Linked DNA regions of Homo sapiens. The protein of the gene in region 1 purifies or fractionates together with the protein of each later gene. This does not show direct contact. Each region holds a gene or a part of one and is shown on either strand. Other genes may lie near its edges. The genes, in order: EYA1, CERT1 and SIX2.

What was found.
Region 2: the proteins of EYA1 (region 1) and CERT1 purify together in Homo sapiens (affinity purification with mass spectrometry; 2 studies listed by BioGRID and IntAct, with this or other methods). This does not show direct contact.
Region 3: the proteins of EYA1 (region 1) and SIX2 purify together in Homo sapiens (affinity purification with mass spectrometry; 3 studies listed by BioGRID and IntAct, with this or other methods). This does not show direct contact.

Annotation. Positions count from the first base shown.
Region 1 is NC_000008.11:71,359,921-71,363,672, reverse strand, and holds the start of EYA1 (protein phosphatase EYA1), read left to right. Parts: upstream 1-1,603; 5' UTR 1,604-2,026; intron 2,027-3,752. UniProt on the Homo sapiens protein: Functions both as protein phosphatase and as transcriptional coactivator for SIX1, and probably also for SIX2, SIX4 and SIX5.
Region 2 is NC_000005.10:75,413,982-75,417,733, reverse strand, and holds part of CERT1 (ceramide transfer protein), read left to right. Parts: intron 1-700; coding exon 701-858; intron 859-3,752. UniProt on the Homo sapiens protein: Shelters ceramides and diacylglycerol lipids inside its START domain and mediates the intracellular trafficking of ceramides and diacylglycerol lipids in a non-vesicular manner.
Region 3 is NC_000002.12:45,007,871-45,011,622, forward strand, and holds the start of SIX2 (homeobox protein SIX2), read right to left. Parts: upstream 1,583-3,752; 5' UTR 1,241-1,582; coding exon 681-1,240; coding exon of another isoform or gene 675-680; intron 1-674. UniProt on the Homo sapiens protein: Transcription factor that plays an important role in the development of several organs, including kidney, skull and stomach.

The DNA.
Region 1 (3,752 bases):
CAAGCTGTATTTTATTTTCTGCATATATACTTTAGTATATTGAATAACTGATACTTCTGGTCTGAGAAAGTGCAGTAGGTGGTAACATAATTCTATTTCTGCTGCATATATGAACAGATCCAATAGCAATCAACTGTGTTTTGACCTGGCTTCCCAAATATGGTAGATGACTAGCCCATGATTCCTTGCTGGTACTATACAAAATGAAATCCTAGGTGAGTTTGCAGTTTAAACTGTCGTTTATGTTTGACAAAGTGTTCTTTTCTGAGGAATTCAGATTGGCATACTTTCGGTGGTTGGGGGGAAGTCTGTAATAAATTTTGGTCATTAGCAGCTTTTTATTTTTTGTTTGCATCGGAATGGTGCTTTCATTTACATATTAGCAATATAAAGTTATGATTGTGTCTATGTGTTTTATTAGTTGACGATCTGGAAATGTATTATAAAGTCATGCAAAAAGTTATTGTGATTTTTAAAATTTTTTTCACATCTATCAAGCGCCTAAAAAATGAGGACGCTTTTTTTTTCCTTAAATAAAAGACCTAATCAGCAGAATAGTATTCTATGGGTGATGACAAAACAGTTTTAAGAAAAATCCGATGGGCTTAAAGATTTTATTTTAGAGCACAAAATTGGTTACAACGAGTGACTAGTATCAAAATAAACATTTGTATTTGAATGTTGGCACAGGTCTGGCAAATTGAGATACAATCATTAGTCACATAAACGATGCCTTCTTTGAATATTTGAAATCAACATAATGGTTAAGTCTTATCACCAAAGTCATGTATCTGTATAAAACATATCTTAACTGAAGCTCAGCTCTTTAGGTGAGTGTTATAGACTGTCATGCATAGATTCCGAGGTCAGTAAGAATTTTTTTTTAAAAGAATAAGCTGTAAAGAAAGAGTTCTAGATAACATGAATCTTTTCCAAAAACCATTTAAAAATATTAACACTGAAACATTATCTGGTTCATAGCCAAGGAATTGTTCACAGAAGATTTGCCATTCTAGAAATCATTTCGGATTCATCCTTCAGGCTTTCATTATTAAACTGATAAAAGCTTGCACGTTTGCTTTTTCATTTTCTACTTAAAGGGAAATGGCCATTCTAGTTTTTTATTTCCCCCAGACCTGTTTCAGTAGTAGGTACGTTAGTTAGGAAATAAATTATGAAAAGTAGTGGATTCCCTAAGTTTCAGGGCCTGAAAAAAGTTTAGGAAAAGTGTAAAAGATAACGTGTAACTACTCCCCAAAGATCTTAATTGGTAACTACTGTTGCAAGAGGACGCGTGTGTGTTGACCACGTCTCAGAGAAGTTATTCTCACACAGCTGTTTATTCAGATAGCGTGGGGCGCGTTCATTTACATAATTTTTTTTTTTTTAAACAGCAAGGTTGAGTCAGACAGAGCAGTGCTCCTTTCAATTGTTGCATTTAAACCAATAAGGTTAGGACAAGAGAATAGCTGTGGTTTGCGTTGCAAAAACCAAAAAAAAAAAAAAAAAAAAAAAAAGAAAGCCCCGAGGCTCCATGGGCAGACCTACAAGGCTGCGCAAACAAATCGAGGGATGAGATTCTGCTGTTTCTTTGTCTAGGGTTCTCAGATGCTATCTGCCGCTGCTGTTTGGTGGGGAAGGAGCGCTGGGCGCAAAGCTGTTACCAAACAGAACGGTGGGAGCTGATGGCTCCGAGTTTGGGGCGAGGTAGAAACTCTCCAGTGCCACTTCCGACTTTAAGCCTTCCTGTTGCCGTCCACTGTGGCGGGTTTCTTCCTGGGGAACACGTTTTCGCTCAGTCGCTCGGCAGCCCGAGCCTGCGGCAGCGGCCAGGCGCCTGCCCCCTGCGCCGAGCTTTCCCCTGCAGAGGCGCTCCACTCCCAGAAGCGCCGCGGCTGCACCAGAGCGCCTGAGAGCCCCCGCGCGTACCCATCCAGGAGCAAAACTATGTCAGGAATGGAGGTTTGCTAACCCAGAAAATTCGAAGGAACACATTAAACTGGTGGATGCAGCAGATGTAAGCGCTGTAAGTACAAGCTGACTGTTTGAAAAATTGTAGTGACTGACAACAGCTGTCCTGTGGGCAAAGCCCAAGCTAACAGGAGCGCTTTTATTATTGTTTTGATTTGTTTTCAAAGAAAAACATTATGGCATGGGGAAAATTATGACACTTTGTACCTAGTACTTTATGAGCCACAGGGTTTCATCCTAGAAGTAGAATTCCCAACCTCCAAATTATGAGCGATCAGGATCATTAAGAAATAATTACAAATTAATTGTTAACAATTACTTTTGTTATGCTCTAGATAAATGTAATGCAGGACCATATTCTTGCAGGGAGATGACTTCATATCTCTTTTCTGAATTGCTGCACAAATCTCAAATATATTTGTGTGGTATTGAATAAAGCGGTACATATATGTTCATTGCAATACATAAGTAACTTTTACACACTTTGATATGAAAAAAATGAAGCATTTAACATTTGAAAGGACAACAGATAACAACATTAAATTGATAGCACTTTTTAAGGAAGAAAATATTTTTGCTTTAATAAATTTCCCAAACGTTATATTAAACAAACTTATCTTCAGAAGGTGATATAACAAACATTTACCCAATTAATATATTTTTCTCTTATTGACACTTTGTAAGGCTTGAGTGGACCTTGAAGTTTAAAACAAGATCTGTAAACTTTTGAATTACCATTTAAAATATTTGCCATTCAAAATCAGTATATGAATTGTTAATGACTCATGGGTTTATATTTATTGGGAGGAGGTTTTGAACACATTAGAGCATAGCATTTGCAAGAATTCAATAAATTCAGAGCTGTCATTGAATTTAGGCAAACGTTTTTGTTTTATTTCTTAAAATGGCAAGGGGTACAAAAGGTCGATAGTAAGCACATAGTGTAGTTTTATAGGTTTGGGATTGTTTTTATAATGTGTCTTTCAAAGTAGGTTTTATTTTATGCTTGCATGAGTCTTTTCCCCCACAGTCTGGGGTCTGAGGACATGCACACATGTACAGTCATGCTTTTGCATTATCAAATATTTGATATTTGACTTTCTGCATGCTTGAGTTCTCCCAAGGCCCAAAGTGTTCAGTAAGTGAGCAAGCAGCCATGGATTTTCAATCTTTGAACATTCTTTGCGGTGACAGACATAGAGGCCTAATTGAGCCACTGTTCAGTTTTAGAGGGCCAAATGGAAGTCCACTGCTGTGTGAGTTTCATAGACATGATAAATGATTTTCTCAAAAGAAAATTTCCATTTGTGAAAATCGTATTAAGAATACATTGTAAAGAAGAAAAACACTTGCAGCAAGAATAAAACCACTTGTTTATCAAATATCAAAAGTATTTCATTCAACATTTTAAGTAAATTGATATTGAAAACAATCCTTTAAAGCTATTGGTAGCATCCATGTGGTTTAAATACTTATTTTTGTTTTCATGCGGACTCTATTTTGTCATTTTCTTTAAACGACGCATTGCAAAAAGTAATGTACTATACTACTTGAAAATAATCAGCAGTAGTATTAAAGCATTTATTTTATGGAGTCTTTGATAAAGAAGGAAATATAGTGTTAACATTTAAAAAACATTGACGTCTCCCTAGAACTTCATTTCAATTTTAGGTTTAGGTTTTTATTTTTAAAATTTAAGTTTTCATTACAACAATGATGCCATAGTTGGAGATATCGATTGAGGAGAAATTTTAGCAAGAATATACCCTAAAACACAGATT
Region 2 (3,752 bases), on another chromosome or scaffold:
TTACATTTTGATTTAAGTTTCACAATTTGTTCTTTGATGGATTATACCTTTACTGTCATATCTCTAATCGTTTTTAAAGTCAAAATTGACATTATTTCATTTATAATTATTCTACTAGAATGATTTCTTAACTATAGAATATTATGATTTCTTGTTTGCATCTTTGAGTTTTAAGATTTTTTGTTTAATTCAAAAGCTAACCATGAATTAAAATGATAAAATTGAAACGTAAAAGGCATTGAGTTTAAGTGCATTGGTCCTGGATTTAAATTTGTATGTTTATTTTTAAATTGTATATTATTTTATTAGATTCTTTAGTTTATCTTCAGATTTTTTTTAATTCTAGGCTTTTCAAAATAATAAGGTAGTTCTTGCCATAATTAGGTCCTACTCTAAGCTGTCAGAATGTTATTGTTAAAGTATTGCTCCTCCTACCATTTGATTAATTGGGTGCAGCACAGCAAATAAATTTCAGGAAACAGAATCTAGAAAAAAAGGACTTGAAAGTACATATGCTGCCACGAAGCTTCTTTGCTTATAGAGCTTGGATAGGAGATTTTTAAATGTTGGCCTACAGGAGGAAAATTAAAATCCCAAAACCTGCTCTGACTTGCTAATTTTCTAAACATTTTCTAATCTTAAATTGTGATGAATTATTTCCTCATTAGAGATATTTTCAGTGAATAATTTTCATTTTCAGTATTTCCACATGTGACACCAAAAGGAATTAATGGTATAGACTTTAAAGGGGAAGCGATAACTTTTAAAGCAACTACTGCTGGAATCCTTGCAACACTTTCTCATTGTATTGAACTAATGGTTAAACGTGAGGACAGCTGGCAGAAGAGACTGGATAAGGTAAGACTAGGTTTTTTTCCTTTTAAAAATAATCACATTTAAGTTTTACGTATTGTTTGAATATTTAAAACAAGCTAACTTCTTAGGGAAGAATCTTGGGTTGATAGAAATAGCAGATGATACTACTACTCTGAAGCTTTATGGGCATCCTAAACTCATTTGCCTAACAAGATTCACCAATTACTTGTTTAGTTACTATACAGTATGCTTTCTTGAAAGATTTAATATAAAAGTTTTTGTGATGATGTTAGTAATGCTTTGGAATAGAAGTGTTGAGCCATTTAACATTACACACCTTTAGGTGCATGATGTATGAAACTGCATTTAAGGCATATGAACTAACTTATATGCCAATTTACAAAGTTAAACATTTACTTATTATAGTAATACTCATGTATTTTTTCCATGGTCAGTGATACCATTTAACATACATTATGTTGTTTGAGCATTTGCCCTATGTTCACATTTTCCCACCTTTGTTTAAACTGCAGCACTGATAATATTATAGTATGACTCTTTAGTTTCTAGTGTGAAGCATGGCTCAGTGGATTTGTTAAGTAGGAAAACTTCTATTTATAATTCAGCTTTAGAATAATAGTAAAATGTTAGAGTTGAAACATACCTTAAAGTTCTAGTCCAATGCCATCATTTTATAGAAGAAGGAATTGAGGCCCAGAGGCTTGTCAAAAGGTGAAAAGTAATAGAGTTAGAGGCATTTTTCTCTATTCTTTTATATATCAGCTCTGGATGCCAGATTAGACATCAGCCAGAATCATATTCATTCTGAGTTATATTGCTTGCAGAGTTTGAAGGCCTTTGAATTTGAGCGGGACACTAAGGAAAGCAATGATAGCACTATGTGTTTAGGAAGGTTCCCATGTTTTAGAAGAAAAGAGAGCTGTTCAGAATGCACAAGTGCAGGTGAGAGTAAGCCATTTTGATTAGGAATATGTCTTCTTTTAAAATAGGTAATGAAAACATCCTTTTAAGGTATAGAAAATTTATTATCATTCTGGAGCCAAACTATTATTATCTTCAAAGATTTCAACTCTATACTCAGTGTGGATCAAATTGAATTATTAGAAGAGTCCCTGTTCACAAAAAAAAAACAATGTATTGAAAAACAGGACAACTCCCTAAATACATTAGACTAATGGTTCAAGATTATCATTCAGCTAGTCCAGACTAGCTTATTTCCAACTTTTTGGCAACTTTCTCTCTCTTTAGTCTCTTTTTCCTTCACTAAGGGATCATATTCTTTGGTCATATACTCTAACCACATTGCCTAAAATAATTTTTTTTAAACCTTTGCACATTATATACCACTTCCTGATTATTTTAGCATTCAAGTTTATTTGCCATGTTGAAAAGGGGAGATAGATTTTTGATTGCTTTCAGCATTGTTAATCTTACCAGTTCTCTTTCTTTATTGGGTAGCAATGAGCAGAGCAAACCAAAGATCTGCGGGAAAAAAACCACTTTTGTTGCTTCTCCATGCAACACTCTCCACCAAAGAACAGCCAGAAAAGATGGCAGGCAGTATTGGTTAAAATCTGGACACTACTGTGTTTTATAGTCTTCTTACAGATCTATCTGATGTCAAATTTTATTAACCTTTTCCACTGTAATTTTTTCTCAAGGTTGAAATAACTGGATCCCAGTTACATTTTACATGGAATGTAAGTGTGTGTGTATTTGCACATGTGTGTACACACAGTATGTGTGTGTTCATATATATATACATAATATATGCAGGGTATGTGTGTATTTATTGGTAAGCAACTCTATTCAAGAACTTTCTAATCTTTTGTATGTAGAGTGTGTGTGTGTGTGTGTGTGTATATATACACACTAAAGACTAGAAAGTTCTTAAATAGAGAAAGTTGTTTATCAACAAATACGTCTTTCAGGTAATTCTTAGAATTGAGAAAGAAAGTACAATGATAACAATATGGTTTCACTGAAATTGTTTCATTCAGGTGTGTGCCTGCTGTGTGCTTGACTCTAAGCTAGGAATGGGAAAACAGTGATGAGCAGGAAATAGTCTCTCAAGGGGCTTAAAATCTAATGAGAGCAATTAAATAGGTGATAATAACAGCTATTTAATAATAGAATTGTCTATATTATACTTTTATGTAGATTTATAATGTCAGTTCCAGGATTCTTTCAGCTAATTGAAAATACTATTTTGTAGTGATGATTTTTATTGGTTACCTATAATAATAATGATCCTTTCCACTGTAGAAGAAGTGTACTTAATTGTTAGCCAGTCATGTCCAGGAAAACCAAAAATTCTAAAATTAGGCAATTATGGTTAACAGTGTTAATAAGAGATAACCTGTTCATTGAAGATACATTTTCTTACATTATTAGATTCACAGGTGTGTACTTTTACATACATTTTCACTTTCCTGTAAGTCTTTAATATTATTGCTGTGCTGTGCATTTTTGTTTTATTCATTTAAAATTAATACATAACATACATACAATGAAGTGTACCAATCTTAAGTATACTACCTGATTTTTTTTAACGTTTGTATACACCCCTTAACCATAGACAGATCAAGATATATAACTTTTCTAGCACCCTAGAAGGTTCCTTCATGCTCCTTCCTATTCCATATCATACCACCACCCCAAGAGGTGATCATATGGTTTTAACCTATGTCATTATAGATTAGTTTTGCCTGTTCTGGAACAACATACAAATGGAATCATACAGTATACTTTTGAGTCAGGCCTTCTCTTTCCTTCAACATTTGACTGTGAGATTCATTCATGTTGTTATATTTAATAGTAGTTTATTCTTTTTTATTGCTATACACTATTTTATTGTATAACTTTTTATTGTATGACTTCAATTTGCTTATCTATTTTCCTGTTGGTGGACATTT
Region 3 (3,752 bases), on another chromosome or scaffold:
TAAGGAGAGAGGCATCAAGGGCCTGGAGTGCCAGGGAAGGGCGGCTATCTCTAGCAAGGCAGAAAACAGGGCATGCGTCTCTTCTCTCCCAGAACTGACACTTCCTCCCTTTCACCTCTGGATCCTTTCTAAGGAGATAAAGGACCCGCTCTCAACTCCATGTGACAACGAAAATTCATGGCCTGGCTTTTCCCCATCCAGGTCATTCTAGGGAAGTTCCAGCCCCAGTCCCGACCCCATCACACTTTGGCCTGGAGCTAAGGCTGGGGGGAAATGCCGGGAAGCACCACCAGCAAGAAATCTGCAAATCCCCTTTCATCTGGGCTCAAACCCCTCTGTCCTGAGGATGACCAGACCTACTGTGCCTGCCTCACAGGGGATACAGGCCCACAGTTCTGCGCTGCCCCGAAGCTCTCTGCTTCTCCACCCTTTTCCTCTAGCGACCGAGTAGTTAGTTGACAACTTCCTGAATTGCTCTGCCCGCTTTAGACAAATCCCTGCTCGCCGGGTCTCCGGCATAGAAAGGCCTAAGCATCGTCCAAGTCAGGCCGGGCTGCCGCTGGGCTGTGGCCGGGCCTGGGGGCCCAGTTTAGGCCTCTCCGGGGGACCGGCAGAAGCCCTGCGAACCCCTCCCTTGGGCCCCGGGGAGCTGGCGCCGAAGAAGGTCTACTTACTCGTACCTTTCCTTGGCCTCGGCCGCCCGGTCGCGCTGCCGCCGGTTCTTGAACCAGTTGCTGACCTGTGTGGTGGTGAGGCCCGTGGCCTCCGCCAGCTCACGCTTCTCGCGGGGTGAAGGGTAGGGGTTGTGCGCGTACCACTCGCGCAGCACGCTGCGACTCTTTTCCTTGAAGCAGTAGCTGGTCTCCTCGCCGTCCCAGATGGAGCGCGGCAGCGGGAATTTGCGGCGCACGCGGTATTTGCCCACGGCGCCCAGGGGTCGGCCGCGCAGCTTCTCCGCCTCGATGTAGTGTGCCTTGAGCCACAGCTGCTGCAGCTTGGCGTGGTTGTGCGGCGAGAACTGGTGGCTCTCCAGGATCTTGTAGAGCTCGCGGAAGTTGCCGCGGTGGAAGGCCACCACGGCCTTGGCCTTGAGCACGCTTTCATTCTTGTGAAGGTGCTCGCAGGCGGGCAGCGACCACAGGAAGCGGCCCAGCCGCTCGATGTTGCCGCCCTGCTGCAGCACCTCGCACACGCACGCCACTTGCTCCTGCGTGAAGCCGAAGGTGGGCAGCATGGACATGGTGCCGGCTGCGTCCCCGCCCGCCCGCGCGCGCCCTCACCGGGCCGCGCGGTCCCGCATGGGAGCTTCCTCGCCGGGCCGTCCGGGCCGAGACGCGGGCGGGGCTGGCCCCCTGGCCCGGCACTGGCCCCCGGTGAGCCCCGAGTCACTGCCGTACGTCCCCGCGCCGGCCGCGGGTCCCACGAAGCTCCGAACCCCAACGGCCCGCGCGCCTGGCCCAAGCCCTCGCCCAAGCCCGGGGGCCGCCCGGGGCGCCGCTCCGCATGCTCCGCGCCCGCCCGCCGTTCCCTCGCTCGCTTCTCACTCGTTCTCCCTCCCGTCTAGCTGGCTCTCAGCTTTCTTAATAATATTATTCTAAGCGGGCATGAGGCGCGGCGGCCCGCGCCCTGATTGGTCCGGTTATCTGACCCGGGGCCTGCCAGCGCCAGACAATAGTCGGAGTCAAATTATTCGCCATGGAGACGCTGTCAGTCACTGGTAACCCGAGCCTCGGCGGGCCGGGCGGCTCCCCCCGGCCGGCTCCGCTGACAGATCGCCCCGCTCCGCGCAGAACTGAGGGCGGCTCTACTGGAGCCTGGGGCGCTCTGAGAGCCTGGGAGGCGGAGAGGGGCCGGGTTGGGGCCGGCGGCGGCGGAGATTGACGGGGCGGATGCCCAAAGAGGGAGGGAGGAGGAGGACAGGAGAGCGGGGGGAGCGGGCGAAGACGAAAAGGGGTGGATCGAGGTGGGGAGAGAAGAGGAGAGAAGGGAAGGCGGAGACCGTTTAAGGGGGTGTCCAGGAGGAAGGGGAGGGAGAGGGGTGGAAGGAGACTCCAGGGGAAGAAAGTTTGGGCAGCTTTGGCTAGGAGAGGGCTCTGCAGCCTCGCCCAGACCCTACAGGGTTCCCCTTCTCCCCAGGTCACCGCGTCCCTCCCAGGCTCTCTGTTCACCGGGCACATTCTACCCCGGCGCAGGCCAGTGGGATGGGAGAGTTTGGACGTGCTCGGGTGCCGCCCAAAGACTTGGCTTTTTCTGCTGACAGCGCCCCACCCCCATCCTAGAAACTCTGGACTCAGCGGTCCTCGAGGGAAAAGGGGAGGGAGTAGACGAAAGAAATGGGGAAGATTTGGCAGTGGCCGCAGGCGGACGCCGGAGAATCGACTTCCCGGAGGATCCCGCCTTTCCTCCCTCTCCTAGCCCCGCCGGCTGCCTGGCGGCCTGTACCGCCCCAACTCTGCGCTCTCTGCTCCTCGCCGGGCGGGGACTCAGACTTAACCCCACGGGTCCCACAGCCCGAGGAGCGCCAGGCAGTTCCGTGTGGCCTCTATGGAAGCTGACTCCGGCCGGCAGCTGCGACGCAGAACCCCGGACGGCGCAGACCCGCAGTCTGCCCACCGGGGCGGGGGAGAGGGGCGACGGCAGGGACTCTAGGACGGTGGTGGGGCTTCCCCGGTGGGTGGTCGGGGAGGAGAACGGAGGCAAGATTCCCAGTCCTCCCGCTTCGCCGCTGGGGATCGGCTCGGCTCCTGGCCACTCCAGCCTGGGAACCGGCTCGCTGAGCTCCGGGATGAGGTGCTTTAAAAGGGGGTCCTGTTTTTTGCTTCTTTGTCAGGGTGCCAATGGAAACATGTGGTGCTGGTCCTGTGGGAGAAGGGCTCGCACAAAGGTGGGAGAACTGAGGATGGGTGTGTTCTTGCTCTACGTTTTGAAAAGCCCGGGGCTTAGCTCCTTCCCGGACATGTCCTTTCCACTTCCTTCAGTTTCCTCCTCTTCCCCCCTCAGCTGCTGCAGGCCAGGAGCTCCTAGGGCCATACTCAGTGCCTGACCCAAGCCAGCACAAATCCTGGGCTCTGCCCTCAGCCAGTCTAGGGCTATGGAACCCGAGTCTAGGCCAGTTCCTTCTTTCCCACCCTTTTATGCTTTCTATGGAGTTTGTGCTAGGAGCGCGGAATGGGAGTCTAGAGCCCTGGGTTCAACTTTTGGTTTTGCTTGGTGTCTATGGTAAGGCATATATTTATGCCTTTGTGTTTATTTCCTTCTCTGCAAGATTTCAAAAATTTTCCCTGTGCTGCAGCATTCCGGAAGTCCTTTGGGAGTGTTGTAGGCATGAGAGAATGGAACCCTGGGACTCCTCTTAAGACTTTAGCTTCCAGGGGCCTACCCTGGCATGTTGAATGAGGCCACAGGGCTGACAAAGTAGGTCCCAAGCCAGTGCGGGTGCAGAAAGGGGAAGCTTTCTGCAGAAATCCAGGTGGCATCTTTAGAGTCTGTATCTGTGGGCTGGGAGGAGGTCTGCTGTGTCCAGGCCACCCTATCCAGAGTCCTATGCACTGCTGCACAGGGGCTGCCCCAGAGTTGGATCTAAGGACCCTGGGAGACATGGAGAAGAATTTACCGCAGACTGTGATGAGGTTCAAAGCCCAATTTGCTGACCTCCAACAAAAGTGCAACGTACTCTTTTCAGCACGTCTCCTTCAGCTACGTGGTTAAAAGGATTCACCTGGCTGGCTGGTCCCAGCCCTGGCAATGGCCAT